Homo sapiens: one gene and its partners. The protein of the gene in region 3 purifies or fractionates together with the protein of the main gene of each other region. This does not show direct contact. Each region holds a gene or a part of one and is shown on either strand. Other genes may lie near its edges.

Evidence for each region.
Region 1: the proteins of STX7 (region 3) and VAMP3 purify together in Homo sapiens (affinity purification with mass spectrometry; 5 studies listed by BioGRID and IntAct, with this or other methods). This does not show direct contact.
Region 2: the proteins of STX7 (region 3) and STX6 purify together in Homo sapiens (affinity purification with mass spectrometry; 5 studies listed by BioGRID and IntAct, with this or other methods). This does not show direct contact.
Region 4: the proteins of STX7 (region 3) and SNAP23 purify together in Homo sapiens (affinity purification with mass spectrometry; 5 studies listed by BioGRID and IntAct, with this or other methods). This does not show direct contact.

What each region holds. Positions count from the first base shown.
Region 1 is NC_000001.11:7,773,287-7,781,295, reverse strand, and holds part of VAMP3 (vesicle-associated membrane protein 3), read right to left. Parts: intron 7,855-8,009; coding exon 7,785-7,854; intron 4,137-7,784; coding exon 3,978-4,136; intron 3,179-3,977; coding exon 3,127-3,178; intron 1,671-3,126; coding exon 1,651-1,670; 3' UTR 1-1,650. UniProt on the Homo sapiens protein: SNARE involved in vesicular transport from the late endosomes to the trans-Golgi network.
Region 2 is NC_000001.11:181,019,526-181,027,830, forward strand, and holds the start of STX6 (syntaxin-6), read right to left. Parts: upstream 3,346-8,305; 5' UTR 3,149-3,345; coding exon 3,114-3,148; intron 1-3,113. UniProt on the Homo sapiens protein: SNARE promoting movement of transport vesicles to target membranes. Targets endosomes to the trans-Golgi network, and may therefore function in retrograde trafficking.
Region 3 is NC_000006.12:132,467,851-132,475,859, forward strand, and holds part of STX7 (syntaxin-7), read right to left. Parts: intron 7,813-8,009; coding exon 7,743-7,812; intron 4,526-7,742; coding exon 4,432-4,525; intron 3,751-4,431; coding exon 3,613-3,750; intron 2,777-3,612; coding exon 2,724-2,776; intron 2,198-2,723; coding exon 2,101-2,197; intron 626-2,100; coding exon 553-625; intron 1-552. UniProt on the Homo sapiens protein: May be involved in protein trafficking from the plasma membrane to the early endosome (EE) as well as in homotypic fusion of endocytic organelles. Mediates the endocytic trafficking from early endosomes to late endosomes and lysosomes.
Region 4 is NC_000015.10:42,498,419-42,506,427, reverse strand, and holds part of SNAP23 (synaptosomal-associated protein 23), read right to left. Parts: intron 1-8,009. UniProt on the Homo sapiens protein: Essential component of the high affinity receptor for the general membrane fusion machinery and an important regulator of transport vesicle docking and fusion.

The DNA of each region.
Region 1 (8,009 bases), on a different chromosome or scaffold from region 3:
AGTACCAAGGTTTCTGAGTCAGACCCGGCCAGAGACCCTGCGCTGAAGGTGGACTAATGTCCTAACACTGCCAGCTGCTTTCTCCTCACAGCTGGCCACACCGCAAGGCATCTCTTCAACAGTAAATCATTTCAGCGATGTTAAGGGAACAGACGTTAAAGAAATGGAAGCTGTGTCCTGGTGCGCCTCAGCTGTTGCTGCTTTATAAGTCATAATAGCATGTGAACAAGAGTTTTAGAATATTCCAGTAACAATGAGCCACAGAGCGATAAAGTCTGTGTCTTTCTCCCTCAGTGCCTCCTTGCCTGTTTTCTTTCATACCTGAATTCCCATCTTTAAGCTGTGGATCCTGATGTTGAGTCTCATGCATACAAGAAAAGTTTTTCCGATGACAAAGTTTCTGCTTCCAGCATTCCCATCAACAGCATTCTCTGCAGTTGATGATATCAAAGCAAAGGTCTCTGGTTGGCTACTCTCTGTGAAAAGAGCCATTCACCCCTGACCAATGCCTAATTGCAGGCATAATTTAGAAAACTGATTTAGGAAGCAGAATGTGAATACAAATAGGAAACAAACTCCAAAGTTATAGTTTATCTTCATATTTGGGCCAGATAATGATCAAGTTCACAGGTGGTCTTACTTGAGGCTACAGAATTGTTGCTTGCATAATTATCAGAAACATGCTGGAGTCCACAGCTGATAATCTGCCAACTGCTGGGTAGAACTCTTTTATGAGACGGTCAGAGTCTACCTCAAACCTTCTCTAACCCCCATGCAAAATACTGAATCAGAAGGGGAGCCACACTGTCTACAGCCTTTCAAAAGGAAGAAAGGCCTATGAAGATGTAGAAGGTTCACACACAAGGTAATGATTTTAATTCTGAAGGGGCACCTTGAGTTCCATTTGGCACGTTTCTGAATTTAACTGTCAGGAATACACTTAAGGCCATTTTATCGGTATTTAACTTTTTGGCAAAATAGAAGCTTTGGTCATAGCCATAGTTCTTTAAAAATTTTTTTAAAGAGGTTATCTCTGATTAAAACAATATTTTTAGCAAGTGATACATAACAATAACAACAATGTAAACATCTTCAAATCTAATGCAAGAGCAAAAGCTCTTCACCAGCATCTTAAATACAGCGAGAGTCAGTAGTGCTTACAAAAAGTAGAGGGTTCTCTTCTAGGGAATCAGAAAATTATCAAAATAAGGCACAGCCTGTTGTTATCACAGATTTGTGTTAGGCAGTAGTGTTTTTTTCTGGAAGGCATAAGTTGGAAATCTGATTACCCAAAGGTTTAAAATGTGGTTCTGAAAATAATGCCAAATGACAAGGGTAACTAACTGGGAGTAATGGCAATTAATTAGTGACAACATTACATCTAGATTATAGCACTCTGGAACTTAAGAAGGCCTCTTCATCAGCCCATACGTAAATCTGTAAAGGCACTGTGCAAAATGTGGACGGGGCCGGCCTTCTAATTTGGAGTGCATATTAAAAAACAAAGGCACGTTTCCTAGAAATTCAACTTTACATTAACACAAAAAAAATTTTAGAGATAACAGTAGGTAAGCTTGATAATATAGCAGGTTCTAAGTCAAAAGTCTTGAAGAGGTTTCTTGAACAGCAGTTTTGAGTTCCGCTGGTTCTTCATGAAGAGACAACCCACACTAAGAAGGAGGAGAGATGCAAAAAGGCAGGGGAAACAGCAGGTTAGTCTCTCAGTGTGAATCCCAAGCCAACATCCAATGCTGCAGTCTAAATGTGATCAGAAATTAGACTGGGCTGATTTCCTACTACTGGCTTCTCTCCATTCTATAGAGGGCTAGAGGAAGGAGACTAGAGTCAAAAGGATCCAAGTAACTGTACCTTCCTGCTAAAAGGAAACATCCACTAACATCCATCTATCAATGAAAGAAGTCATGTTTCGGTTCTCATATACTGGGCTACCGATGGCAGTGAGTTGTTTGAATATTATATAATAATAGTTGTGTGTGTGTTTGTGTATACATATATATTATTTATATAGCTATTATTTTTATTATTATATGCCAGGCACCAACCTAAGCAATTTTTATTTATTTTATTTATTTATTTTTTTGAGACGGAGACTTGCTCTGTCACCTAGGCTGGAGTGCAGTGGCATGATCTTGGCTCACTGCAAGCTCCGCCTCCCGGGTTCATGCCATTCTCCTGCCTCAGCCTCCCCAGTAGCTGGGACTACAGGCGCCCGCGACCACACCCGGCTAATTTTTTGTATTTTTAGTAGAGACGGGGTTTCACCGTGTTAGCCAGGATGGTCTTGATCTCCTGACCTCGTGATCTGCCCGCCTCAGCCTCCCAAAGTGCTGGGATTACAGGCGTGCGCCACCAAGCCCGGCCAATTTTTATATATTTACCAGATCTGTCCTTTAACAAACAAACAAACAAACAAGACAGGGACTATTATTATCCCCATTTTACAAATGAGGAAACAGAAACCCAGAGATATTAAATTGCTTGTCCACGGCCATACAGCTGGATGGTGGTGGAGCCAGGATGGATCACAGGCACTCCATGCTTTTAACCACTACATTACATAAAAGGAAATATGTGAAAAAAATATATTCAGAGAAAAGAAGTGGAAATGAATAGATTTTCTCTAACTTCAAAGGATTAATGTTTGTATCAAATCTCAGACTTATACAAAACTCAAGTACTTAAAACATTTATTAAAGAAAACTGAAAACCTTGGAATAAATGAACCTTTCTTTTTTTTTTTTGAGAAAAGGTCTCACTCTGTCACCCAGACTAGAGGGCAGTGGCATGATCATGGCTCACTGCAGCCTTGAATTCCTGGGCTCAAGCAATCCTCCTGTCTCAGCCTCCTGAGTAGCTGGGACTTACAGGTGTGCACTACCATGCCTGGTTAATTATTAACAATTGTTTGTAGAGACGCTATGTTGCCCAGGCTGGTCTCAAACTCCTGGCCTCCCAAAGCTTTGGGATTACAGGCATGAGTCACCGCACCTAGCCAAAACTAACATTTCGGAGGGAAATTTTAATCTGAGTTCTTGTACACAAAATCAATGGTCTGTGAACACATGGAGAAGACTTTTCCAATCAGTTTAGAAAAGGGTAACTCACCGATGATGATGATGATGAAGATAACCAGAACAGTAATCCCGATTGCCCACATCTGTAACAAAACATATGTCCATATCACATTTCAAATGCAGACATAATGTGCTTGTTGAAGAGTATTATATAATATTCATCTAGTCACTGAAAGGGAAATTCAGGTGCATACAGTCTGGAGTAATTAATAATTTCTAAAGCCTAAATTAAATGTTCTCAATTAGGGCCTGAAGGTAACTTATCTGCTTTTAAAAGATGTTCAAATGATGTGTGGCCTCTAGCTAGGCATTTGTTTGTGTATACAAGTTTTCCACATATGGAAAGGCTGCTCAGCTTGCCCTGTGTCTCAAAGTGTCACTTGTAAACAAGGCAGAGGACAGGATACATCTGGATCTGATTGCAGCACGCTAACTGTATAAAATCTGCTTTGGCTCGTGCTCCTGGGAGAGCTGCTTTCTACTCTTCTGTTGGGCACACTGTGGCTTTCTAGCATTTCTTTCCCTTGACCTTGGAACCATTCACAGAACTACGAGAAAACTGACCAATTCCAGCCCTCTCCTATCTGTTTGGGGCCCTGCTGGGGTAGAGGGTTGGGAGGGGCTGATGACTGTGAGTGATTTTGGATATTCCTGTTCTACCTGCATCTTCTGAAGATCAGCCACAGCACATAGAGGATTCCTAGTGTGGGGCTAGGAAAGGGTATGCAGTCAGTGTTTCGGATTCACAGTGGACCCACATTTCCATGTGGAGGAAGTCAAACCCACCTCCCAGAGTCGTGAAAGTCCATTATCTGTAGCCTGTTAATTCTCTGAGAATGGAGAAGGGGGGTTAAATGTAAAGGTCAGTTAAAAGATAATTACCTTGCAATTCTTCCACCAATATTTCCTCTTCAACTTGGCTGCGCTCGTTTCAAATTGAGAAGCGCCTGCCTGCAGTGCGTCTGCACGGTCGTCTAACTCAGAGAGCTTCTGGTCTCTTTCCAGAACCTTGTCCACGTTAACTCGCATTATGTCCACCACCTAGATGAGTGTGATCACAGCAAGTAATGCACAAAGAATGGAGGAACAGGGCCAGGTGCGGTGGCTCACGCCTGTAATCCTAGCACTTTGGGAGGCCGAGGTGGGTGGATCACCTGTGGTCAGGAGTTCGAGACCAACCTGGCCAACATGGGGAAACCCTGTCTCAGTACTAAAAACATAAGAAAATCAGCCGGGAGGGGTGCTGGGCGCTTGTAATCCCAACTACTCAGGAGGCTGAGGCAGGAGACTCGCTTGAACCCAGGAGGAGGAGGTTGCAATGAGGTGAGACTGCGTCATTGCACTTCAACCTGGGTGACAGAGTGAGACTCCGTCTCAAAAAAAATGGAGGCACAGAGACTTCAAAGACAATCTACAGGCACATTGTTCTTTCAGGTCAGCACTTTATTACTTTGAGCCAAACTTTCACTTTAGAAAAAATGGGCTCACTCTTTCATGATCAAAACAATCAGCATATTAAGGATAGAAGGGAATTTCCTTAATATGATAAAGGGCATTTATGGGAAAATCCACAACTAATATCATGCTCCATGGTGAAAGACTTCCCCCCTAAGATCAGGAACGAGGCAAGGATGCTCACTTTCACACTGCCACTCAATACTGTACTGGAAGTTCTGAACAGAGCAATTAGTCAAGAGAAAGAAAAGGCATCCAAATTGGAAAAGAAGAATAAACCTATCTGTATTTGCAGATGATTCTCTCTATATAAAAAATACCAAAGAATCCACAACAAACTGCTAGAGCTAACAAATTCAGCAAAGTTGCAGGGTACAACAACAACACATAGAAATCAGTTGTGTTTCTATACACCAGCAACAAATAATCTGAAAAGGAAATTAAGGAAACAATTGTGTTTACAATAGCATCTAACAGAATAAAATACCTAGGAATAAATTTAACCAAAAGGTGAACGACTTGGACAATGAAACTAGAAAACATTGCTAAGAGAAATTGTTAAGAGACATCATTAAATGGGAAAACATCCTATGTTCACACACTGGAAGACTTAATATTGCTAAGAGGGCAGTACTCCCCAAAGTCACTTCCCAATTTCAAAACTTACTACAAAGCTACAGTAATCAAAACAGTGTGATACTGGCATAAGGACAAACATATAGACTGATGGAATAGAACTGAGAGTCTAGAAGTCAACCTAAGCATCTATGGCCAATTGATTTTTGACAAGAGTGCGAAGGCCATCCAACAGTCTTTTCAATAAACAGTGCTGGGCCAATTGAAGAGCCAACATGCAAAAGAATGAAGTTGAATCCCCACCTCACCCTATATACAAAAAGTAACTCAAAATGGATCAATAATCTAAGTGTAAGAGCTAAAGCCATAAAACTCTTAGAAGAAAACATAAGGGTAAATCTTCATTACTTTGGATTTGACTGTGGATTCTTATATACCAAAATCAAGAACAACAAAAGGAAAAACAGATACATTGGACTTCATAAAAATTAAAAACTTTTGTGCATCAAAGAACATTATCAGGCCAGGTGCGGTGGCTCATGCCTATATTCCCAGCACTTTGGGAGGCCCAGGCAGGTGGATCACCTGAGATCAGGAGTTTGAGACCAGCCTGACCAAAATGGTGAACCACTGTCTCTACTAAAAATACAAAAAATTAGCCGGGCAAGGTGGCGGGCGCCTGTAATCCCAGCTACTCTGGGGGCTGAGGCAGGAGAATCACTTGAACCTGGGGCTTGGAGGCTGCAGTGAGCTGAGATTGCACCACTGCACTCCAGCCTCGGCAACAGAGCAAAACTCCGTCTCAAAAAAAATAAATAAAAATAAAAAAAATAAAAAAAATGTAAAAGACAAGCCACAGAATGGGAGAAAGTATTTGCAAATCACATGTCTGATAAAGAAAGATTTAATATCCAGAATACATAAAAAACTCTCACAACTCAAACAACCCAATTAAAAAATGGGCAAAGCCTGAACAGACATTTCTTCAAAGACATACAAATGGCCAATAAGCACATGAAAAGATGCTTAACATCACTAATCATTAGAGAAACGCAAATGAAAACCCAAAGAGCTCAGTAGGATGGTTATAATCAAAATGGAAAACAAGTGTTGGCAAGGATGTGGAGAAACAGGAACTCTTGGACATTGCTGGTGGGAAAATAAAATGGTGCAGCTATTGTGGAAAACAATTTGGCAGTTCCTCGTAAAATTAAACATACAGCTACTATGACCTAGCAATGCTACTCCTAGGTATACATTCAAGAGAAATGAAAGCCTATGTCTAAACAAAATCTTTCCTGTGAATATTTATAACAGCATTATTCATAATTGCTGAAAGGTGGAAACAACTCGAAGACTCATTAACAAATGGATGGCTCAACAAATTGTGTATACACATACAATGGAATATTACTCAACCGTAAAAAGGAACACGGTACAACACGTTACAACTTGAATGAATGCAAAAAACTTTGTGCTAAGTGAAAGAAGGCAGATGCAAAAGGCCACACATTGTATGATTCCTTTTATATGACATACCCAGAACAGGCAAATCCACAGAAAGAGAGAGCTGATTAGAGGTAACCAGAGAATGGGAGGAAGGGGAAATAGTGAATGATTACTAAATGGGCATGAGGTGTTCTGGGGTGATGAAAAAGTTCTGAAAATGGAAAGAGGTAATGGTTGCAAAATATTATCAATATACTAAATAACACTCAATTATATACAGTTTAAAATGTTTAGTTGTATGTTATGGTAATTTTGCCTCAATAAAAAAACAACTCTCCTTAAAATTCCTTTGGCTAAAAAAAAAAATCCAATTTGATTTTGTAAGTAAACAGAATTTCCAGGCAGGACAGAATTACAATGGGTTTCTTACTGTGAAAATCTAAAATTGTATAAGTTCATGAACAAAACCATCAGATCAAAACATTACTATATTATTTAACAACAGTATCTGACATAACTTTAACTGTTTTTTCAGGGCAGCTAAATGCAGAAAGACCGAAATATATTTGTCGGACAGTGACGGCTTTTAGGAATGTGGAAACACTAGTCTGAATTTCTCAATCTTCTGCTGTGGTTCTCCACATACGGCGCAGAACAAAAGATGGAGGTCCTCTAGCTCAAGAATTCTACAAACAGAGATTTGCTGAGCTAATGGAGTTTGACAGTATCTACTTTGTGTGTGTCAATGGACAACCATTAGAGATGAATTCTACAGAGAGGCTTGCTCAGGCTGGACAATTAGTAAGAAGACAAAGCATTTTGATAAAAAAATCTGATCAGAAGAACTGGTCTTGGCTTGAGCAATCTAAAGACCTAATCCTTAACATTGTATTATCCGATTTTATAAAGTGCTTCTTGGGGAATGCACTCAGGGAGTGATGTTCATGTTTTAGGCATATGATTTTTTATTTCTCCTGAGCTAAATGTTATGAGCAGGTTTCTATCACAGGAAAACAAGCGTGAAACCTAGAAAGTCTGACTTTTGCTTAGATTAGATCTTCCAGCACAGCAGGGAGCAAAGTTTCGTTACAATTATGATACAGTCAGAATTTGCTTTACATTCACACTTTGATGATACTTTTTCTAAACAGATTTCCAGAGTACTCATATTTGTTTAAAATTCATATTTCCAACATTTCAGAGCAATACCTCATCTACTTGATTTTGTGTCTGCTGAAGTCTTCGATTACTGCCAGTGGCAGCAGTTGGACCTGTAGACCTGGAACATGTAAAGGCATGAGCATGAGTACATTACGATTCCAAATACATTTTCTTAAGTATAAAGATGTTACTCCGGGACTCTCACTGTTAACAATCTCTTACATTAGAACTAAAACAGAAAAAGAAATTCTTCCTGAAGCAATGAACGAAAGT
Region 2 (8,305 bases), on a different chromosome or scaffold from region 3:
CATGTAGAGTAAGAGCATCCAGTACAGCAATCACAGTCACTGTATTGAGTCTGGCACTGCTGGAGTACTAAGGCTAAGGGAGAGCAGAGGCTAGATCAGTGAGGTCAGGAAGTGTTGGCACTTTATTCTGCAGGCCAGCAGCAGCCACTGAATAATATTAAGTAGGGTACACCTGTCTAGGACTCTAGAAAAGCTTACACTGTGCTGTCCAACACGGAAGCCACATACAACTACTGACTGGAAATGTGGCTAGTGTGACAGAAATTAAATTTTAATTAATGTAAACTTGGTAACTGATAGCAATTCAGTTATCAAAAACCTTTTATGTATGTTTGGAACAATTAAAGAGTATGTAGGCCGGGCGCGGTGGCTCACGCCTGTAATCACAGCACTTTGGGAGGCCGAGACAGGTGGATCACAAGGTCAGGAGATCGAGACCATCCTGGCTAACATGGTGAAACCCCGTCTCTACTAAAAAATACAAAAAATTAGCCGGGCGTGGTGGCGGGTGCCCTGCCCATAGTCCTAAAAATACAAAAATTAGCCAGGTGAGGTGGTACACACCTATAGTCCCAGCTACTCAGGAGGCTGAGGTGCAAGAATCGCTTGAACCTGGGAGGCAGAGGTTGCAGTGAGCCGTGATTGCACCACTGCACTCCAGTCTGGGCAACAGAACAAGACTCTGTCTCAAAAAAAAAAAATGTATTTAATGAACTTTAAATACAGATCAATTATTTCTGATGAAAATTTAATGTCCAAATTTAAATGTGCAGTAAGTGTAAAATATGTATCAGATTTAGAAGACTTAGTACAAAAGTAAAATATCTCATCAATAATCTTTAATCACATGTTGAATATTTTGAATGTATTAGAGATTACATTAGAATTAATTTCACCTGTTCCTTTATATTTTACTGCGGCTACTAGAAAATGTAAAATGACATACATGGCTGGCATTATACTTCTATTGGACAGCAATGATCCAATAGATCCCAGGACAGCTGAAAGAGGAAATGAGACCAGAAGCAGGAAGAACAATTAAAAAGACTCTGATAAGCATCCAGGTAAGAGAGACAGGCCTGATTATCTAAATTCTGCCCATCTTCAAAACCTAATTCAAGATACACTACTGCCTCCAAAAGCTCTCCTAATCCTAACAATTCCCAAGGAGTTACCTTTCTCTGAACTCCTGAGGCACTTATCTGTAGCATTCACTTCAACACTCATTCATTTGCCACCTGTCATTTCTATTTAATTTTGGGGTAATTTGTTTCTCAGATTAGACCAGAAGCTCCTAGGCTAAGGGCCATAATTTAGGCACCTTTAATTTTTGCATGCTGTGTAATGCATTTTTGATACTTTTAATAAACACAGGTACATGACTCCCCAAAAATCTGGATACACCTTCATGGGTGACTTTACCTTTCCACAGCAGAAGGAACTGAGAATCTCTTTTCCTTCAAGAACCTTAAAGATAGGAGCTAAAATGATGTAAAAATCAATCAAAACTCCCTCCAAGCCAATGTTCCGATAAAGTAGTGATATTTAATCAGTGAGCAAGCATTAGTAGACTGTATAGGATACCATCAAGAAAAAAAAATGCCAAGACAGAAGAATTTAGGCTTTTGACAAATTCCATAAAAAGTCAAACAAAAAATTTCTGATCATCTCTGATCTCTACCGCCAGAGATAACCTTTGCCAACCTAAGCATTAAGAACTTTCAATCAAGGAAAAAACATCTATTTTAAAAATTAACCCCTAAATCAATCCTTCTAATAAATATCACATTTTCTAGGTAGGGATACACATATTACCAGTAAATTTACAACTCAGCATTTTCCCATCTAAATTAGAGTAAGGTGAAGAAAAAAAACTTTCCAGGGAAATATTAAGAAGTAGTATAAATGTATTTTACTGCATAATCGATAAAGTATTTCACCTAAAATACCATTTAAATTTTCTACAACACTTGACTATACAACGGCCAGCTTGCACCACTACAGAAATAGGAAGCTAGCAGCAACTAGTAAAAAGCAAGGGACATTCTGTGGTGATCAGTACTGACCTGGGAACTTTGCAGTTTTCAGATTTTTCATGTTTGACATTTAAAACAGAAAACTGACAAGTTTCTAATAAGAAACTAAAAGTTACATCAGAATTGATCTTCTTGCATGTGTTTAATGGCTACGAAGTGGATATTACAAAGTGCAGTTGAAGACTCTATCTCCAAAGAAACAATCGAGCAATCAAAGATGAGCTAGGATAGCTTGTAAGGGAACAGAAGGCAGTCCTTTCTATTCTGAAAGGCAGAAGAAATAGGAGAAACCTGTCAAACAACCTGGATGAAATCAAGGAGTTAACAAGCAACACTCATTTCCTTTAGCACTGTGAGAAAATTCCGGTTGCTAATAGAAAGCTGAGGAAAGTTTGGTTTGGCTTGTTTCATTTTGTTTTCCTTCCAAATCATCACTGAGTATGAACGACTGCTTTCCTCTCCTCACATTACTCAGTAAAAACTCCCCCATTGAATTGTCTTCCGGTGCCCTGCTCCCCAGCCTCCCAGAACGGCCCCCGCCCCCGCCTCCCTCCCAGCAAACGTGCTCAGACGCCTCTGGGCTTGTTGTGGTCTCGCCAGTCTGCGGACAAGCGCTCCAAACTCAATGGACAATGGAGCTCACCCCCGTCAACGCGAACTACAAAGCTCAGGAGGGCCATTTCCCTTTTCCTGCCCAGATGCTGTTTTCGCTCCTTCGAAGCAAGATCCCATGCTCGACTAGACGGCCAGTGTGCGCCAGGACCCGCGTGTCTCCTTCCCCACCTGCAGAGCTGCTGAGCCCCTCGGCCCCCAAATAAATTGTACCGCAGCACACAGGCCAAAAAGGGCCCCCCACCACCAGGGGCTTGGCTGGGGACAGTGGCTTCACGGTCCAGGTAGGGATGGAGGGAACGTCTCTTGACGCTTGGTCATGGCCCTCAAGACTAAGCCGTCTCCACTGTTCCCCCTCCCCAGCTCCAACTTGCCTCCCCTCCCCCCACTGCGAGAAGACCTAGGAGGTGCGGGCAGGCAGCACCGCCACCTCTTCCTCCGGTGGAGCGCTCGGCCGACACTCACCCTTTCACCACAAAGAAGGGGTCCTCCATGGACATGGCGTCCCGGCCCCGGCCGCCTTCACCTCCTCCGCGCACAGGGCGCCCGTGCCTCCCGGTCTCCCTCCGCCCACCCCGCCTGTTCCCGCAGCTGCCCGCGCCTTAGTCTGGGTGAAGCCGAGCAGCGGGCACGCGCACAGGCCAGGTGCACAGGACGGCCGCTGGTCCAGCACTCGCTCAGCACCACTGGCCGAATCCCGGACTCGGGCGCCGGCCCCCTCGGCAGCCTCCAGTCCCGGCTCCTCCCGAAGCGTCGGAGGGCCTGACCCCACCCCCGGGACCCTCGGCCGCGGCCAATCACGAACGCCGCCTGAAACACGACTTCCGCACCCCGCTCACGTGACCAGGGCATATATCTCTCTCTCTCTCTCTCTCTCCTCTCTCTCCTCTCTCTCCTCTCTCTCCTCTCTCTCCTCTCTCTCCTCTCTCTCCTCTCTCTCTCTCTCTCTCTCTCTCTCTCTCTCTCTCTCTCCCCCCCCCCCCAGTGGGCGGGGCTTACGCCTGCGTCCCTCGGCCCTGGAGGCGGAGCCCTCGGGGCGGTGGAGGTGGGCGGGCTTCTACAGCCCTCTCCTCAAGCTTGAGGGTGAGGAGTGGCTTGTTCCCTCAGAACTAGGCAGTCGGCTTTTCAGGATAAGCTGTAGTTGTACCTGATTTGCAAAATCCTCTTACCTTTCCTCTACTTTTAATACTTAATTTTGACAGTATGTAATTTATAAATCTATCTGGTCCTCGACTTAAAATGAAGCATAGTATCTGATTATAATGTTACACAGATCCTTTAAGTAGGTCTTGCTTTGTGTTGGACAGTGTGCTAAAGGTTGTGTATGCATCATCTCAGTATCCTTTGGGGGAAAGTATTATTCCCCCCTCCCCCTTTTTGGGGGGCAGGGTCTCTCTCTGTCACCCTGGCTGGAGTGTAGTGGCACAATCACAGCTCACTGCACCCTTGACCTCCTGGGCTCAAGCGATCCTCCGGCCTCAGCCTCCCGAGTAGCTGGGACTACAGGTGAGCGCCACCACGCCCGGCTAATTTTTAAATTTTTTATAGAGATGGGGCTCTCAGTATATTTCCTAGGCTGGCCTTGAACACCTGAGCTCACATGATCCTCCTGCCTCTGCCTCCCAAAGTGGTGGGATTATGGGCGTGAGCCACCACACCATCCATTTTTCTCATTTTGTAGATAAGAAAATAAGTTCAGAGAGGCTTGAAGACTTCCTGTAGTCACACAGCCTGGACAGGGCAGAACTGCAGATTCTGTGCACTTTCCACCAGATGGGGTGTACTTTCTGTTGCTGTACATTCTGCAAATAACCATGTAAAGTAATTTTTCATACAGCATATGGTGCTTCCCAGGAGAGCACACCTTCGAGGAATAAAGAAGGGGCCAGGTATGACAACTTCCTCTCACTGTGGTTCAAGAGCTATTCGAGAAAACATTTTGCCCAGAACCATTAACCAACTCATATGCTAGATATGCTATGAAATTTGTGGATGGGGATTGTGGACTTTGATTGCTGAAAATCATTGAGCACTTACTGTGTGTGTGTGTCAGGCAGGATGTTAAGTGTTATCTCAGTTGCTCTTACAATGTGATAATTACTGCTATCATGCCCATTTTATAAATGAGAAATCTGAGACTCGGAGGTTAAGTGACTTGCCCAAGGTCACCAGTCTGGAGCTGGCACAGTCCTTGGAGCAACACAAACCCCGTTTAAACCTTGGCTCTATCATTCAGTTCCTCATCTATAAAACATAAATAATAATAGCTAGTTCATGGGTTGTTGTGATGGTTAAATAAAAATGTGTGTAAACCTCAAGATCCCAAAGGACTAAGTTACTGAAGTCAGGAAAACCAGTAAGGACGCTGCTAAAGTCATGTGGCCTGAAGGGATGAGGTCCAGACCAGGATGACAGCGATTGAGAACAGAGAAGGAGTGAATCTGACAGATGTTTCAAAAGGAAAACAAGACTAAACACCTAGACATGATGAGGGGCTGAATGGGTTTCAGGAGGGGAGAGAAGAGAGGGGTGAAAGCCAAAATCCCTGGAGGAGCGAATGATGGAAGGCAGATGTGGGGAAAGGAAGCAGTGTCCAATACTAGTGATTGCTAATGTTTATTGGGAGAGAACTGTTTAATTTACTTAGCTGGGGAGGTGAAAACGTGTCATCGTTCATTCATTCAACAAGCACATGTAAATTGAGGGGTAGGTGAGCATGGTGTTGAAGACCATCCTTGGAGTCTGATTGCTTGAGTTCTGCTGCTTCCTGACTGTTGCATCTCAGGCAAGCCGCTTCATCTCTCACTATCCTCAACTGTGAAATAGACACCGTAATAACAGCTTCCTTATAGAGTGTCATGAGGTGATGTGTGAAAAGTGCTTAAAACAGTGCCTGACACATGTTGTGCTCCTACTGTGTGCTAAGCACTGAGACACAGGCATGAACAAGGCTTGGTTCTTGCCTTCAAGGAACTGTCAGACTGGTGGGAGAGACAGACTGGTGGGAGAGACACACAGTGAGAGAAGGGCACAGGTTGCCATAGAAACACAGCGACAAGATACCAGTATATTTGTGTGTTTTCGGGGCTGGGGCAGGGGGTTCCTAAGCAGTGACTAGAAGCAGCCAGGAGAAGGGGGCCATGTTGCTGGAGTAGAAGGAAAAGGATGGGGGCAGCAGGAGCTAAGCCTGGAGGTGGACAGGGTCAGATTATCAGGGCCCTTGTTTGTAATGTTCAGAATAGTGGACGCTTCCTATGGACAGTTCCCCATGGGGACTGAGGGAATTGACAGGGTCAGATTGGCATTTGAGACAGATGCTTCAGTGGCTAGGAGGTTATGGTCCAGAGGAGGGATGAGGGTATCCTGAGCTGGGCTTGTGACAACTAAGGTGGAGAAGAGTGATGCATTTGAGACATACTTTAGAGGCAAAGTTAGTATACTTGGTGACTGATTGGTTCAGGGTATGGGGGAATTGATGAAAGAAGAGGGAGGAAGGCTTCTGGGGTTGTAAATGGGTAGTGTTGGTTCCAACCATCAAGAAAGAGAACACAAGAGGAGGATTTGATTTAGGGTGAATGTAAATTAGCTGTTAGCATGTCATTTATCCCCACCAAACAGTAAACTCCTGGAGGGACAGGATACTATGTTAATGTTATTATCACCTAAGTGCCTGACACGGCCTCTTATTATCTGTTCCATGAATTTCTTAATTGGACCACATATGACAGGCCAGAGTTTTATAAGTAGTAATAGAAGATAGAGGACAGAGGCTTGGGTTCCCATAATTAGGGGATTAGAAAAAGCACCAACAATGGAGATAGTGGAGTGTCAAGATATAAAATGTGTGTATGTGTGTGTGTGTGTGTAGGTGTTCCTTTCTTTAATGTGTCACCCTCCTTTACCCTCTCTCAAACTAGACCTTGGCCTCCACTGCCCACAAGGAAAGGGAAGCTATGGCTAAAATGCAAGGAGAAACAAAGGAGGTTCTTTCTTTCTTTCTTTTTTTTTTTTTTCATTTAATAGGACCCACGTCCTGGCATAAACAATAGGTTGGGAAGAATACTCAGCAAAAACCCATCTCTTCCCACACCCCCACCCCTACCCCACCCCCAACCCAAAAGAATAATTTAAATTTCTCAGGGAATAAAAAATCAAAACAGTGGTTGTCTTGGGGGACAGAGTTTGACTGGGAAGGGAAACTTTCTTGGGTACTAGAAATGCTCTGTATCTTGACGGAGTGTGTGTTACATGAGAGTATCATTTGTCAGAATTCCTCAAACCGAAACTCTTAATTGGACTTAACTTCTGTTCATTTTTCTGGGGGAGGTTGACATGCCAACTCTGAGCTTTCTGTAGAGTTCTGAGTGGGCAGCCAGGAGAACCTCTGGTTCCTGAGTGAGTCTCCAAAGTTAGGAGAGTGAATGAGGAAGGGAGCACACTGGGTCCTGCAATGCATCTTCTGCAGAAATAAGGAGATGGCAACACAGAGAATAAGGCACAGGCAGCCAAATGAGCTGAGGATCAGAAAGGAGCCAACCATATCACTGGGGATGCCAGGATAGACCTGAGAGGGATTGCAGTGGGTAGCCACCCCCTGCCCCTGGAAGCTGCGGGAATGCCATGACACCCCTACAAGGGGATCTCCCCTACTCTGAAATAATGACATTCAGCCTGCTCCTTCACTAGCCTGTTATAAGGAACAACTGGATCATATATGGGAATAATTTTTTATTTTTTAAATTTTTTATTTTTTAAATTTATGAGGCCGGACATGGTGGCTCACACCTGTAATCCCAGCACTTTGGGAGGCCAAGGCGGGCAGATCACAAGGTCAAGAGATCGAGACCATCCTGGCCAACATGGTGAAACCCCATCTCTACTAAAAATACAAAAATTAGCTGGGCTTGGTGGTGCGTGCCTGTAGTCCCAGCTACTTGGGAGGCCGAGGCAGGAGAATCACTTGAACCCAGGAGGCAGGGGTTGCAGTGAGCCAAGATCACGCCACTGCCCTCCAGCCTGGCGACAGAGCGAGACTCCATCTCAAAAAAAAAAAAAAATTTAATTGTGGTAAAATACACATAACATAAAATTTACCATCTTAACCATATTTAAGTGTACAATTCAGTAGTGTTAAATATATTTGCCTTGTTGTGCAACCAATGTCCAGAACTCTTTTCATCTTGCAGAACTGAAACTCTATACCCATTAAACAACTCCCCATTCTCCCCCAACAATCTCTGGCAACCACCATTCTACTGTGTGTCTCTATGAATTTTACTACTCTGGGTACCTCACATAAGTGGAATCATACAGGATCTGTCTTTTTATGATTTGCTTCTTTCAGTTAGCATGATATCTTCAAGGTTCATTCATTCATTCTACATATTGCAGAATTTCCTTCCTTTGTAAGCCTAATATTCCATTGTATATATACCACATTGTGCTTGTCCATTCATCCATCAGTGGACGACACTTGGCTTTCTTTCATCTTTTGGCTATAATGAATAATGCTGCTATGAACGCTGGTGTACAAATATCTCTTTGAGACCCTGCTTTCCATTATTTTGGATATATACCCAGAAGTGGAACTGCTGGATATGGTAATTCTATTTTAAATTTTTTTGAAGAACAGTCATATTGTTTTCCATTTTACATTC
Region 3 (8,009 bases):
CATTCAATACTTAAGGGATTCTTAGCAACTTTAGAAAAGAAAATCACTTCTAAAAAGAATTCCTAACTTCTATGTAATACTACTAAATTCATCTACCAAAAAGCTATTAAAATGAATGATTAGGCAAATGTCTACCTATTCCCTAATACCTAAAAGACAAGATGTCATGCACAGTTACATATACCACAAGTTTCCCCAAAAGTGCTTAGCATGATGACAAATAAATTGGAGTAAGACTAAAACCAGAGGCCCTGGAAATAAGCTGGAATAATGTTTCATGGTGCCTTCCATGGTCTTGGCAGCAATAGGCCCTGATTAAATTTGGGCTTCTGAAATAAATGAAGCTGGTTATTTCAACCAGCACGAGTTAAAAATGAGATCTGTTTTAGATAATGCCAAGGGTGATGCTTACTGTGTTTTATAGACCATGCTTTTGGTTCCAGGGAAACCAAAAAAGGGACAGAAAGTGGTTACTCTTCTGTGAGAAAGTTACAGCAGGTAAAGTGCATGTAGCTTGCTCTCACCTCCAAAATCTAAGTCAGCAGGTCTTACCTATTACATCTCCTTGTTCATGAATCATCATTCCCAAATCTTTAAATATTTCATTAATATCCATAATATCAGCCTAAGAGAAAACGCATATATTATTATAATCAGAAATTCAGTCCCCATTCCATAAAAGAGGAAAAATTTTAAAAACCCAAACCACTACTCACACATGGGTGAGCATGCATCTATAATACACAAATATAATACATAAACTTTGGAAATATCAGGAAAATATTTGACAATAATTAAGAAGAATTTGAACAATAGCCACCAGTTCTCTAAAATCAGTTTGTGGCATTAAAAATACCAAGTGAGCGAGGCAGGATGGAAATGAATGGAAATGAAGGATCTATAATAGAGAAGAGCCATGGATTGCTGAGTTCATTTTATACAACCTGATAGTTTTGTTATCACAAGCAGTATCTACTTACAAGGGTATAAAATATTCTTAGCATGTATTTCTAGTAAAATTTACACATCAATTTGACAATTTAAAGTAATAAAACATTAGGTGTAAATTTAAAGTCTCACATTAATAATTTGAACATGCAGTGGATTAGTGAAATGTCACTACTGAATAAAGAAGTTATAAACTTGGTGATTAAATATAAATTTACTTTTCTTCAATGACACAATTAACTGCTTCATAAAGTTTTTATAAGGACTAAATGAGATAATTAACATAAAGAATTCATCCCACAAGTGCCTGGCACATGGAAGGTCTTCAATAAATTGTAGCCATTGTTAGCTATTATTAGCCTTCTTTCTAGGAACTAAGTAGGTTCCATAAGAACTATGACTTAATAAATCCTTTAGATCTCTTTGATGTCATAAACATAGTAAAGAGAAATAAAATTCTTTGAAGGCCTTATAAAAGGTCTTACTCATGCAGGTATGATGTGTATCATGTGCTCTGGGAAGACATCCAGACTCTTGGACAGACATTTATCTCTACACTGGTATTTTCTCAATACTAAGGTGGTCCATAGATGGCTTGATATAACAATAATAATTTTTAAAAAGCTGCAGTAGGAGGGAGTATGATCCCTCGTCCTAGCACAAACAGTAAGGACAATATTATTTTTTTAAAAAAGGAATTATTCCAACTCATACATTACAAATGCTACCAAACTGATACATTAATTTTCTTTCTCTGGGCCAGACATGGTGGCTCACATCTATAATCCTAGTACTTTAGGAGGCCAAGGCAGGCAGATCACTTGAGACCAGGAGTTTGAGAACAGCCTGGCCAACATGGTGAAACCCTTTCTCTGCTAAAAGTACAAAAAATTAGCCAGGTGGGGTGACACGTGCCTGTAATCCCAGCTACTCAGCAAGCTGAGGCACAAGAATCGCTTGAAGCTGGGAGGCGGAGGTTGCAGTGAGCCGAGATTCCACCACCGCACTCCAGCCTGGGTGACAGAGGGAGACTGTCTCAAAAAGAAAACAAAATTTTTCTGTCTCATGCATTCTCCCAGCATTACCTAAGCATCTTGAGAACAAACTCACTAAGACCAGAGCAGCAGCCCAAGTCTACAATGTAAGCCTTACTTCAAGTTGCCTGATAGAAGATTCTCTCTCATGAATAAGACGGAGGTCATCCTCTGTAATTTCTTCATCCTGCACCTGCACTTGAGGTTGAGTTTGGCTAACAGAAAAAAATGAATGTGGAAAAAAACAAAGATTGGTATTCAAAACAATGGGACTCATTTCCTATTTAAGATATATTCATTAAATAGGATATTTTATTCTCCAAAGTCACAGAACTACTCAAAAAAATTCTAAGAATATAACAGATATATTAATAAAATTTATTCATTTTTCATTTCACTTATATCATTTTAGCTAATGTGAGTTTAGAGTTATTACTTAATTATTGGAAGCTGTATCTGTCAACTGGGTATTTCTTCTCAGCTGATTTAAACCTCATATAAGGGAATGTCTATATTAATAATTAAGTCCATAAACATTTATTTGGAAAACTTTATATATTTTGTAATAAATACTTTATAATTACTTAAAATTTTTTTCAAATTTACTCTGTTTTCAACATATAAACAACTTAGGATATTTATGATATAATATATTGAAAGCTTTAATTCTGTTCCAGGGACCTTAATGTATAAACTTTGAAAAATTACCTTTTGATCTGTAAAATGTTTTGTATTTCTTACCTTTCCCAGGATACAAGATTCCTTTCTTTTGAGCTGTCCTCAGGAAAACTGCCCTGAATAATTTAGTAACAGGATGGAATGAGAAGGGGCAAAAAAAGCAAAAATGAGAAAAAATAAACACTCATATTTTCCCTTATAATAAACTAAACTGATTTATGTACGTGTCTGTGTGTATGTGTGTGTGTGTGTAGAGACAGAGAGAAAGAAGTTCTTGTTCTAATTTTTCAGGTCAACTGCTTCAAGTAATAATATAATTATAAGTAATTTTATATTCTAAGTAGACAAGAAAGGAATTCACTAAATATTCTCAAGGATCAAATAAGTATTATTTAGTTAAAGCTTAATGTAGTCTTGGAATCCATATGTTAATGAATAAGAAAATAACTCATGATAGTTTCTAAGGGAATTTAAAATTAGATTAATTCAAAATTCTATTGTAAAGCTTCCTTTCATTTATTTTCTCCAGGCTCATGTTCATTTTCAATATTGATACAACATACTTGCGCCATTCATCTCCGTCATCTTGGTGTAATCCAGGAGGAAAGTGCTTTCTACACTAGCGTGTACACAAGCAGAAAGCCTCAGTACCAAGACGATGTGAGAATACTACTCAGGATTTGATCCCTAATCTTTTTTGACAAAATATGTCTCTATATTTTTATATACTCTGTAATCTTCTGTACTATGACACAAAAAATCACCACCGTAATACAAAATTATCATCCTTTTCTAAAAATGGAGCAGGAAAGCATAAAAATAAATATTCAAGAGCTGATTTCCAAGATATTCACAGATCTTTATGACTTAAAAAATTATGCTACTATAGACTTTTATGGGACCCTTAGCAAGTAACCATGTTCATTTCTAGAATGTCTTTTAAAATACTTACAGACACTCTGGAACTGGCTCTTACTCGAGCAACAAACTCTTTCTCTCGCTCAGCAGCCTGCCTCTGGACCTTCTGGAAGTTTGTCAGTGATGTTGTGAACTCTGCCACTAAGCGATCCTTCTGTATTTTCCTTTGACGCTAGAGGAAAGAGAAGAAAAAGCCAACTAGAATCTAGCTGTGAAGTTCAACTGAATTTGCGGTAGTTGGCTCTTTATTTAACCCTGAAGTTTTCACTTACTCCCCAATTACAGGGCCTTACAGATTAACTCTCAGTAACATTCTGATAGTATGTCAAATACTGTGCATATTTAACTTGAGGCAAAAGACCCATTATGCTGGATTTCTCACCTCAGGTTTTCACGCTGCTAAAAACTAGCTTATTATTTTGAGGCTATTTTAAAGTAATTCTTTTTCAGGCAAATAAAGCCTTATACTTTTAGCTAAGTAATAACTTCCATTAAATAAGCAGGGAAATAAATATGTGCCCCCAGGACACCTCACATCTTGAATGAGCCTGCATGTTCCACGCAGTCAGCCCCGGAAGGCCAGGAAATAATTACTCAGGAAGCATTTTCTGAGAACTAACTTAATTATGGGTCAGGGCAAATGCATGGAAATAATTTTTGCTTTATTGAACCACAGGATACTACCTGAGCAATTAAATATAGTTTTGTGTTCTGTGAACTAATCTCAAACAGAATTATTTTTGATTTCCTTTCTAGCATAATTTCCTTTCTAGCGTAACAGTTCAAAGATCCTACAGTGCACTGGGTTTTTTTCACATTCAATACATCAACAATGTGTCTTAAAGCTTGATACCTGTTCACTGGGGGTGGTGGGCAGAGATCCAAACTCTTTAATGTACTTATCTGTTTCTTTGGCAAGCTGGTTAGTATACTGCTGCTTCTGTTGCCTAAAGTGAGAAAACACGCATTACAGCCAAAGGACTAATATACTTCTTTAAGCTTCAACTCTGCCTTTTGAATCAACACTGATAAACAGTTGTACAAAAATTGCCTTTTCATAAACTGGCTCTCAACTTTCTCTATCAAAAAAAATTTCATATCCTATTCTTTGATAAATAATGAGCAAATATTATATGTCAGGTTCTTCACTCACACAGGGTAGGCAAGCTTAGAGAAATCAATTCAACGGCCATTTAGAAACACAGATGACTTGAATCAGAGGGAACCTGAAGGAGAGACTGTTAGATGTCTGATCCTTTATGTTTGAGATACTGGGGATGTGGAAGCCCTTTATCTGCATCTCACACCTGGAAGGTCAGGTAAGCAAGAAAAGATTTGTTACCTTAGACTTTGCCCAGTTCCCAGATCTAGTTATATCTGGCCTCTCTTATTTCTCTATGTGAACATGTATATGCTATAGATACTTAAAAAAAAGGCGGGGGGGAGGGGCCAGGCATGCTGGCTCACACCTGTCATCCCAACACTTTGAGAGGCCGAGGCAGGCGGATCACTTGAGGCCAGGAATTTGAGACGTGCCTGGCCAACATGGCGAAACCCCATCTCTACCAAAAATAACAAAAATTAGGTAGGTGTGGTGGAGCATGCCTGTGATCCCAGCTACTTGGGTGGCTGAGGCAGAAGAATCACTTGAACATGGGAGGTGGAGGATGCAATGAGCTGAGATTGCACCACTGCACTCCAGCCTGAGCAACAGAGGAAAACTCTTGTCTCAAAAAATAAAAATAAAAAGGAAAGAGGCAATATTGGTACAAATTTACTATTATTTAAGTTTACGCTGGAAAAAATAATGGCATTTCCTTGTAAAGGGAAAGAACACAATAAATAAAAGAAGTAAATTATAGTCATCCCTCAGTATCTGCAGATTGGTTCCAGGACCCCTGTGGATACCAAAATCCGCTGATGCTCAAGTCCCTGATATAAAAAGGTATAGCATTTGCATATAACCTATGCATATCCTCCCATATCTTTAAATCATCTCTAGATTATTTATAATACCCAATACAATAATGTAAATGCTATGTAAATAGTTGCTATATTTTATAGTTCAGTTTTTTTTTTTATTATTGTGTTGTTTTTTTTTTTTTCTTGAATATTTTTGACCTGCAGTTGGTTGAATCTGGGGATATATAATCTATGGATACAGAGTGCTGACTACATATCCATATTTTATCTAGCTATCTTATAAATTGAAAAGATTTCCAACTTAAAAACATGACACTAAAAAAAAGCTCATATTAATTGTGATGTTTTACAAATCACAACATCAGTACCTCTTATATATTTCATCTCATTTTAAATATGGTCTGGTCACACTTGGGGTCCTTTAAAATAATGAGATATTGTATAAGAATATGCTTAAGAATAGGGATCTGTATTTGACTGACAAAGGGTAATTAAAATCTATTTCTATCTCTATTTACCAAATACCCTATCTTTAATGCATTTTTGTAAATCTCTGGAAATCATAATATAGTCAAAGTTTTAAAAAGAAGACCTTAGGCTGGACATGGTGGCTCATGCCTGTAATCACAGCACTCTGGGAGGGTGAGGTGGGTGGACTGTCTGAGCCCAGAATTGAAGACCAGTGCCGGCAACATGGCAAAACACCATCTCTACAAAAAATACAAAAATTAGCCAGGCATGGTGGATGTGCCTGTATTCCCAGCTACACAGTAGGCTGAGGTGGGAGAATCGATTGAGCCTAGGAGGTCCAGGCTGCAGTGAACCGTGATAATGTCACTGCACTCCAGCCTGGGTGACAGCATGAGATCCTGTCTCAAAAAAAAAAAAAAAAAAAAAAAATCCTTAGTGACTACGGATATATATTCAGAATCTTCATTATTAACTCTATCAAAATATTAGAACTTTTATGAATTATGTACTTCTATTCCATTTTACTTTAGTTTAATGAATTGTGGTTTATTATTTAGATTTGGAGCATTTTTACCATTCTGACACTTACCCACTGTGGAAAAATAAAATATAAATTAGAGATAATTGTAAGTCCTTCAAATTGTACTTCCTAAAAATATGAATTCCTATTACCTATCTTTTAATATCGTCCTCTTTGCAGTTTTCCCTCTATAGTTAATGTTGTTTAGAAGTATTGCTTACTAGATATATGTGACTTGAAATTTACAGCTGTAACAGTACTGAAATAAAATTTAAGAGTTAAGTTCTAAATGACATTGGGTAACTCGTTAAACCCGTAAGAGACATGAACAAAATGGAAACAGTTCTTTTGGTCTATTTCTCTTACTCTAATTCTGTAAGGTTTAAATGATAAAATATGTAAAAATACTCTGTAAAATCCACAACATACCACAGACAAAATATTATCACTATGACTGCTGGTCTTCTAACAGCATATTAATTTACTGGAATATGTACTATATAATTCATTATAACTTTTTTTTAAACGGAAGCTAATGCTCTCTGAAATTCAAGGATGTAGGTATAAACTTGTGGGGAGACAGCTCACGTAGCTGGTTATGTATTGGATCTAAACCAAATAAAACTCTGGTGACTGCGGGGATTTTTAGCTATGGAAAGTAAATCACATAAATTGAGATACTAGAGTATAATTTTTCAACAGCTGTCAAAAACAACCTACCTAAAAACTGTAAGAAATGCAACTAAAGAAATTCTGCTTTGATAGGGTAAGCCTATCAAGGAATTTTTTTTTTTTTTTTAAGACAGAGTCTTGCTCAGTCGCCCAGGCTGAAGTGCAGTGGTGTGATCTCGGCTCACTGCAACCTCCGCCACCCGGGTTCAAGAGATTCACCTGCCTCAGGCTCCTGAGTAGCTAGGACTACAGAAGCTCGCCACCACGCCTGGCTAATTTTTTTATTTTCAGTAGAGACGGGGTTTCACCATATTGGCCAGGTTGGTCTCGAACTCCTGAACTTGTGATCTGCCCACCTCAGTCTTCCAGATCTTTAATATAAAAACACCTGCCTACTCCAGACAGGGAAAAATCTACACAAAAGCTTGGTACAAATGTATGGATAAGGTAGCAGAAAAACTCCATTGTTTTTCCATTTTTTCTTCCAGTAAACATAATATACTACATACTGTAAAAGCAACAGAATAATAGCAATAGAGTTTTTTCTTTCTCTTTTATTTATTTAACTAGATACTTACAACTGTTGCCTCAATTCAGGTGAATCTTGAGGTGTTCCAAGTTGATTCAGAGTTCTTTGTATTTCCACAGCTATTATAATAGAAAATTCATGTATTAATTGTCACAAAAGTTAAGGTAACAGAAAGAGTTAAAAATTAATATGTACAAGCAATTGGGCAGTTGAAAAGAGACAGAAAAACAAAGATGAAAATAGAAAATATTAACTGGAAAAAAGAATAACTAAATGGTTTACTTAAATCTAATTAGTAACAAAAATTTTCAAGAGG
Region 4 (8,009 bases), on a different chromosome or scaffold from region 3:
CTCCACAAAAAGTAACAACAAAAATAGCCAGGTGTGGTGACCAGTGCCTGTAGTCCCAGCTACTTGGGAGACTGAGTTAGGAGGTTCACTTGAGCCTGGGAGTTCAGGGCTGCAGTGAGCCATGATCCCCACTACACTCCAGCCTGCCTGACAGAGCAAGACCCCAAAGAAAGAAAAGAAATGGGCCGGTCACAGTGGCTCACGCCTATAATCCCAGCACTTTGGGAGGCCGAGGTTGGCGGATCACAAGCTCAGGAGTTCAAGACCAGCCATTGCCAAAATGGTGAAACCCCATCTCTACTAAAAATACAAAAATTAGCCAGGTGTGGTGGTGGGCGCCTGTAGTCCCAGCTACTCGGGAGGCTGAGGCAGGAGAATCGTTTGAACCCGGGAGGGAGTGGTTGCAGTTAGTCGAGATCATGCCACTACACTCCAGCCTGAGTGACAAGAGCAAGACTCTGTCTCAAAAAAAATAAAAAAGAAAGAAAAAAAAAGAAAAGAAAAGAAAGAAGGAAAAGAAATGGAAGGGAGGGAGGGAGGAAGGGAGGAGATAAGAAAACAAGCAAGCAAGAGGCCAGGTGCGGTGGCTCACGCCTGTAATCCCAGCACTCTGGAAGGCCAAGGTGGGCAGATCACCTAAGGTCAGGAGTTCAAGACCAGCCTGGCCAACATGGTGAAACCCCGTCTCTACTAAAAATACAAAAATTAGCCAGGCGTGGTGATGCACACCTATAATCCCAGCTACTCAGGAGGCTGAGACAGGAGAGTTGATTGAACCCGAGAGGCAAAGGTCGCAGTGAGCCGAGATCATGCCACTGTACTTCAGCCTGGGCAACAGCAAGACTCCGTCTCAAAAAAAAAAAAAAAAAATGCAAGCAGAAAGGAAGTAAAAGAAAAGAGAAGAAAAGAAGAAAGGAAAAGTAAATGAGCTTCTTGGAAAGAAATACACAGAAAAAAGGCCCTGGAATTTAAATAAGGCCTTGGAAGATCCATGTGGCTTCATTTGTAAAACTGGTGAGCTACTCAAGAAGTAATGAAGAAAGAGCACTTTAAATCACCATCAGGCCAGGCGTGGTGGCTCATGCCTGTAATCCCAGCACTGTGGGAGGCAGAGGTGGGCGGATCACTTGAGGCCAGTAGTTCAAGACCAGACTGCCCAATACGGTGAAACCCCAGCTCTACTAAAAAGAAAACACAAAAATTAGCCGAGTGCAGTAGTGCACGTCTGTGGCTTGAGCCTGGGAGGCAGAGGCTGCAGTGAGCCAAGACTCACTGCACTCCAGCCTGGGCAACAGAGCAAGACTGTCTGAAAAAAAAAGAAAAAAAAAATCACCATCAATTTCACAGGGTCTTGCAAAGAATGATTTTATAAGATAATTCTTTTTATACTGGTAAACAAGGATTTTGCAGCTAAAATATTCTACCAAATTAGTTTCCTGCCTTATTCCTTCTCTGAAAATTAATCACAATAAAGCTCCTCAATGAGTTACACTCAAAGGGTTTATTACTGTACTTTTAAGTTCAGCATTCTCTTTGGCTTGATAGAAGTCTACGTCCATGGTAACCAATGCATCCGCAGCAAGAGGAAACTTCTGTTTATAGCAGGATAGCATAGTGGGTGAGTGGGAATTCCAGCATATAAATTCCAGCCTCACAATGTATTTGTTGTGTGACCCCAAGTTAATTACCTAACACCACTAAAACTCGGTTTCTGTATTTGTAAAACAAGGATAACATTCTATTTTATAGTTTTGTTTTTTTTGTGAAGATTAAAAAGAGATGATCTACACAAAGTACTTAGTACAATGCCTTGCACATGGCCGGTGTTCAATGTTAGCCATTATATTAATATTTTTACTGAAGTGGAAATAAATAGTAGGCAAAACAAAAGGAAAGTAACAATGTTGAATATGAGTCACATTTATGTAAATGTAGCTGAAAGTAATAGCTACTAAATATTAATAGTTCCATCTGCAAGGCTAAATTTGAATATTAAAGTTGATGATATAAAGTATAGGCTATATACAACTTTTTTTTTGAGACAGAGTCTCACTTTTTATTTTATTTTATTTTACTTTATTTTATTTGAGACGGAGTCTCGCTCTGTTGCCCAGGCTGGAGTGCAGTGGTGCAATCTTAGGTCACTGCAACCTCTGCCCCAGGGTTCAAGTGATTCTCCTTCCCCAGTCTCCCGAGTAGCTGGGATTACAGGTGCCCACCACTACACCTGGCCCTTTTATTATATTATTATTTTTTTTTTTGTAGAGGCAGGGTCTCACTATGTTGCCCAGGCTGGTCTCAAACTCCTGGCCTCAAGTGATGCTCCTGGCTCAGCCTCCCAAAGTGCTGGGATTACATGTATGAGCCACTTTGCCTGGCAAGGGTCTCCTTTATGTTAAGGATGGCTTCCTCCTTTTACTTCCTCTCTGGGCTTTCCTTTCTATCTCCTTCTACACAAACAACTTTAACCATTTTTATATATAGGCCCCAAAACTATGCAAATATACATACATATTTTTTTCTCTTTTTAAAAACTCTTTTCTTTTTACCATACAAAGTCTATAACTCAAATGCAAATATACTAAGTACATCACAGAATCGTATCTACTAAACAGCTTGGTTTCAGGCCAGGCGCAGTGGCTCACATTTGTAATCCCAGCACTTTGGGAGGCCAAGGTGGGTGGATCACCTGAGGTCAGGAGTTTGAGACCAGACTGGCCAACATGGAAAAACCCCGTCTCTACTAAAAAATACCAAAGGCCGGGTATGGTGGCTCACGCCTGTAATCCTAGCACTTTGGGAGGCTGAGGAGGGCAGATCACTTGAGGTCATGGGTTCGAGACCAGCCTGGCCAACACGGCAAAACCCCGTCTCTACTAAAAATACAAAAATTAGCTGGGCGTGGTGGCATGTGCCTGTAATCCTAGCTACTTGGGAGGCTGAGGCAGGAAAATCACTTGAACCCAGGAGGCAGAGGTTGCAGTGAGTCGAGATTGTGCCACTGTACTCCAGCCTGGGCAACGGAGTGAGACACCATCTCAAAAAAAAAAAAAAAAAAATTAGCCAGGCGTGGTGGCGGGCACCTGTAATCCCAGCTACTCAGGAGGCTAAGGCAGGAGAATCACTTGAACCCGGGAGGCGGAGGTTGCAGTTAGCCGAGATCGCACCGCTGCACTCCAGCCTCAGCGACAGAGCGAGACTCCATCTTAAAAAACAACACGAAAAAACAAAACAAACAAAAATCAGCTTGGTTTCAAAGTACACTGAAGCACAAGATTCAAGACAGAAATCATATTAACAAATGGGAAAGTCCCACTAAAAATCAGGAACCAAAAAGAAAACCAAAATTACATTTTCAGGCCTATAGTCCCAGCTACTCAGGAAGCTGAGGCAGGAGGATCACCTGAGCCCAGGAGTTTAAATGTAACCTGGGCAACATAGCAAGACCCTGACTCTAATTACAAAAAAAATTAAACTTCAGTTTTACAGAAGCACCTATGGTAACTTAATTGCTTGATGTCCAACGCCTGGTCTTCAAGTCCCTGTCAAATTAGGAACTTCCACAATTCTACTCTAAGTGACCCAGGAGTAATACTGGGGAGGTAGATGTAGGTTTGATTGTAATCAATTTTATTAACCCTATCAATGAGAATGGTTATGTGAACAGAAAGGGGACGTTCTATGTGAAAGATAAGAACGGGGCTCAAGAGCCAGAAGCTGGCAATCTACCCAGGAAGAGACAATGTGGCAGGCATAAGTGTGGTATCTGCCAGGGAGATACCAAGTACGGGGTGAGATTAATTGGCAAGGATTCACCCTGCCTGAATGAAATATTCACCGAAACCATCCACATAGTTTAGCTCTGATTAAGTTCACTTAGATGCTTTATTTATTTATTTATTTATTTAGGTAGATATAGGGTGGCTCACTATGTTGCCCAGGCTGGTCTTGAACTCCTGGCCTCAAGCAATCCTTCTGTCTTGGACTCCCAAAATGCCAGAAGGCGTGAGACACCACACCCAGCCACTTTGATGCTTTCTGGTTAGTTTTTCAAATATTCCGATATTAAGAGTCAGAAGCTACAGACAGCGAATATAAGCACTCTGCCGGGCGCAGTGGCTCATGCCTGTAATCCCAGCACTTTGGGAGGCTGAGGCAGGCGGATCACGAGGTCAGGAGATCGAGACCATCCTGGCTAACAAGGTGAAACCGTCTCTACTAAAAAACAGAAAATTAGCCGGGCGTGGTAGTGGGCGCCTGTAGTCCCAGCTACTCAGGAGGCTGAGGCAGGAGAATGGCGTGAACCTGGGAGGCAGAGCTTGCAGTCAGCCAAGATCGCGCCACTGCACTCCAGCCTAGGCGACAGAGCGAGACTCCGTCTCAAAAAAAAAAAAAAAAAAAGAGAGAATATAAGCACTCACGTCCCTGGAAAGGATACCCCCAACAGAAAAGAGTGGCATTCTTGCTTATACAAAAGACAACATAGTATAGTAGTTATGTGCCCAATATCTGAAGGCATAATGGTTTCAAATCCTGATTACTGTTAACTTTTCTGTGCTTCAGTTTCCTCATTAAATGAGAATAATGCTTACTTTAAGTGTTGTTACATGGATTGAGCTAATTCAAGCACAGTATTTAGAGCAGTGCCTGGCACACAGTGCTCAATAAAACTATTATAACTTTTCATAATAATTATGAAATATCTCTCGTGATTTTGGCCAGGCATGATGGCTCATGCTTACAATCTCAGCACATTAGGAGGCCAAAGCAAAAGGATTGCTTAAAGCCAGGAGTTTGAGACCAGCCTGGGTAGTAAAGCAAGTCCCCCATCTCTACACAAAATTAAACAACAAAAAAAAAATCAGCCAGGCCTGGTGGCGTGCACCTGTAGTCCCAGCTACTCAGGAGGCTGAAGCAGGGGGATCACTTGAGCTCAGCAGTTTGAGGCTGCAGCGAGCTATGATCATGCCATTGCACCCCAGCCTTGGTGACACAGCAAGACTGTCTTAAAAAACAAACAAACAAAAAAACACAAACACCCTGATTCTCATTTGTGTGGGTCAAAATCCAAGTATGATCAAGTCCAAAAAATTATGATTTTAAATTAAATTATCAAAAAGGAAGAAAAAGCCACAATGTAAGGCTTCAGTGGTGAGGCAGGAATATAATGTGTGTGTGTATGTATGGAGGGCAGGGGATGGCTTTCAAGACAGAACACATATTGTGAAGAGCTTTGTATACTATACCAAGAAGTTTGAAATTTATTTTGCTATGCTGCCTAGGTTGGTCTTGAACTCCTGACCTCAACTGATGCTCCTACTTCAGCCTCCCAGGTAGCTGGGACTACAGACACACCACCACACCTGGCTTGAGTTTTATAAGTATTGAAAGGCCATCGAAAGTAATTTCAATTTCCAAAACACTGTCAAAATAAATTTAAACAAACTTTACATCTAAGTTACAGAACTTACAGAAAGCAACAAGAAGAGAGAATTCTGGAAAAACATAGGAATCAGTGATTTAAATACTTTAGTAGCAATACAACCTAAATTGAAACCCAAACCAAAATGTCAGTGAATCTAAATGAATACAAATGGGCTTCTTCTACTCTTACTATTTAAAAAAACACAGTACATTTTGTTTCCTGGCTCCATAATCCACTTCCTCTAATTGTTAGAGGCACTGGATCCTTCTGTTTCAAGTTTCTACCTATCACAGCAAAGAAAAAGAGCAGTCCTGGCCGGGTGAGGTGGCTCATGCCTGTAATCCCAGCACTTTGGGAGGTCAACGCAGGCAGATCATCTGAGGTCAGGAGTTTGAGACCAGCCTGGCTAACATGGTGAAACCTCGTTTCTCCTAAAAACACAAAAAATTAGCCAGGCGTGGTGGCGCATGCCTGTAATCCCAGCTACTCAGGAGGCTGAGGCAGGAGAATCACTTGAACCCAGGAGGCAGAGGTTGCGGTGAGCCGAGATCACACCATTGCACTCCAGCTTGGGCAACAAGAGTAATACTCTGTCTCAAAAAAAAAAAAAAAAGGGAAAAGAAAAGAGCAGTCCTTGTCATCTGCCCGTCTGTCAACCTACAGATCTGGAAACAAAATATAGTAATGGAATAAAAAGTTCAGCACTCTTGGAGATAAGCAACATTATAATATTATACATGCTAATATATACACAATGTGGAGTACAAACATAGCTCAAAAACAGATGTCCAGAGTGTTGCAGATAAAGGAACCAAATTGGGGCGGGGGCGGGGGAAAGCCTGAATTCAGGGAAAAAAAAAGGCAGCTGATATCAAAGAGCAAACATCCTCTTTTTCCTTTTTGTTATTTTAATCTACAGGAGCCTTGACCTCCCAGGCTCAAGCGATCCTCCACCTCAGCCTTCTGAGTAGCTGGGACCACAGGCACTGGGCACCAGGTCCAGCTAGTTTTTTAAAAAATTTTTGTAGAGACAGTCTTGGCATGTTGCCCAGGCTGGTCTCAAACTCCTGGGCTCAAGCGATCCTCCTGCCTCAGACTCTCAAAGTGCTGGAATTACAGGCATGAACCACCGCCCGGCCCTAATCTACTTTCATCTGGTGGAACCAGTAAACTTTGCTAGAATTGTGTTATGATAATGAACATCATCATAGAGATCACAGAATTTTCAAGCCCATAAGCTTTAGTTCAATCTTCATTTTAAAAATGAGCTGATTAGGCCCAAAGCAGTATCTTCCAAAGTGCTGAGCAAGAATATGATTTTAACTGTTACATATGAAAGAGTTATATATTTAATAGTTATGTATTTATTATAATGGATGCTAAAAAAGCTATAAAATACATAAAAACCATGATTTCACAGATTATCACTTTGGAAGTGGGCAATGTTTTTTTAAAAAACCCATTAAACATGAAGTAAAATAACAACAGTACTCTAAATGGCAAAAATTATGATGGTGGTATGACTCATAGGTGAAGACTCCACAGCTGTCCCATGAGTACAGGCCTGTTTTTGTTTACTTTCTTTCTGGTTCTAGGTTGTGTTCTAAATGATTAGAAAAGATGTGACCTTAGACCGGGCGCGGTGGCTCACGCCTGTAATCCCAACACTTTGGGAGGCTGAGGCGAGCGGATCACCTGAGGTCGGGAGCTCGAGACCAGCCTCACTAACATGGAGAAACCCCGTCCGTCTCTACTAAAAATATAAAATTAGCCAGGTATGGTGGCGCCTGCCTGTAATCCCAGCTACTCGGGAGGCTGAGGCAGGAGAATCGCTTGAACCCGGGAGGTGGAGATTGAGGTGACCCTAGATCAAGATATTGTACTCCAGCCTGGGCAACAAGAGTGAAACTCTGTCAAAAAAAAAAAAAAAGATGTGACCTTTAGTTAAGTGGGCTTGTGTGTATTGTACCTAAGTTCATTCAGTGTACAAGAAACAAATATCAAGATACATATAGGAATTCCACTGTTTATTTGGCACAGTAAGACATCCTTATGCTGGAACTATGATAACACTAACTTTCTAGTGCATAAACACATACTACAAGCACCTAAAGTAAAACCTAGCCTGAGACAAATATTCAAGCTGCAGGCTAAGTGATATGATCACTTAAATTACTTTCACATGACCTGTCAAAGGAGTATGGCAATGTAAGGTGTTTCTCTTATTTGCTAATATTTCTTTCTTTTCCTGAGATCACTCAGATCACTGGATCACTGAGCTGAGACCACCAAGTAATTTATAAAGCAAAGAGAAGAAATTTAAGCCAGCTGTAGAAATTTGCGTTAAGTAACAAGGAGCTGAATGTTAATCACCAAAACAATGGGAAAAATGTCTCCAGGGCATATCAGAGATCTTCATGGCAGCCCCTCCCATCACAAGACCTGAGGCCTAGGAAGAAAAAATGGTTTCGTGGGCAGCCTCAGAACTTGGGGCCCTGAGTCCCAGCTGCTCCAGCTCCTGGCTAAAAGGGGTCAAGGTACAGCTTGGGCTGTTGCTTCAGAGGGTGCAAGCCCCAAACCTTGG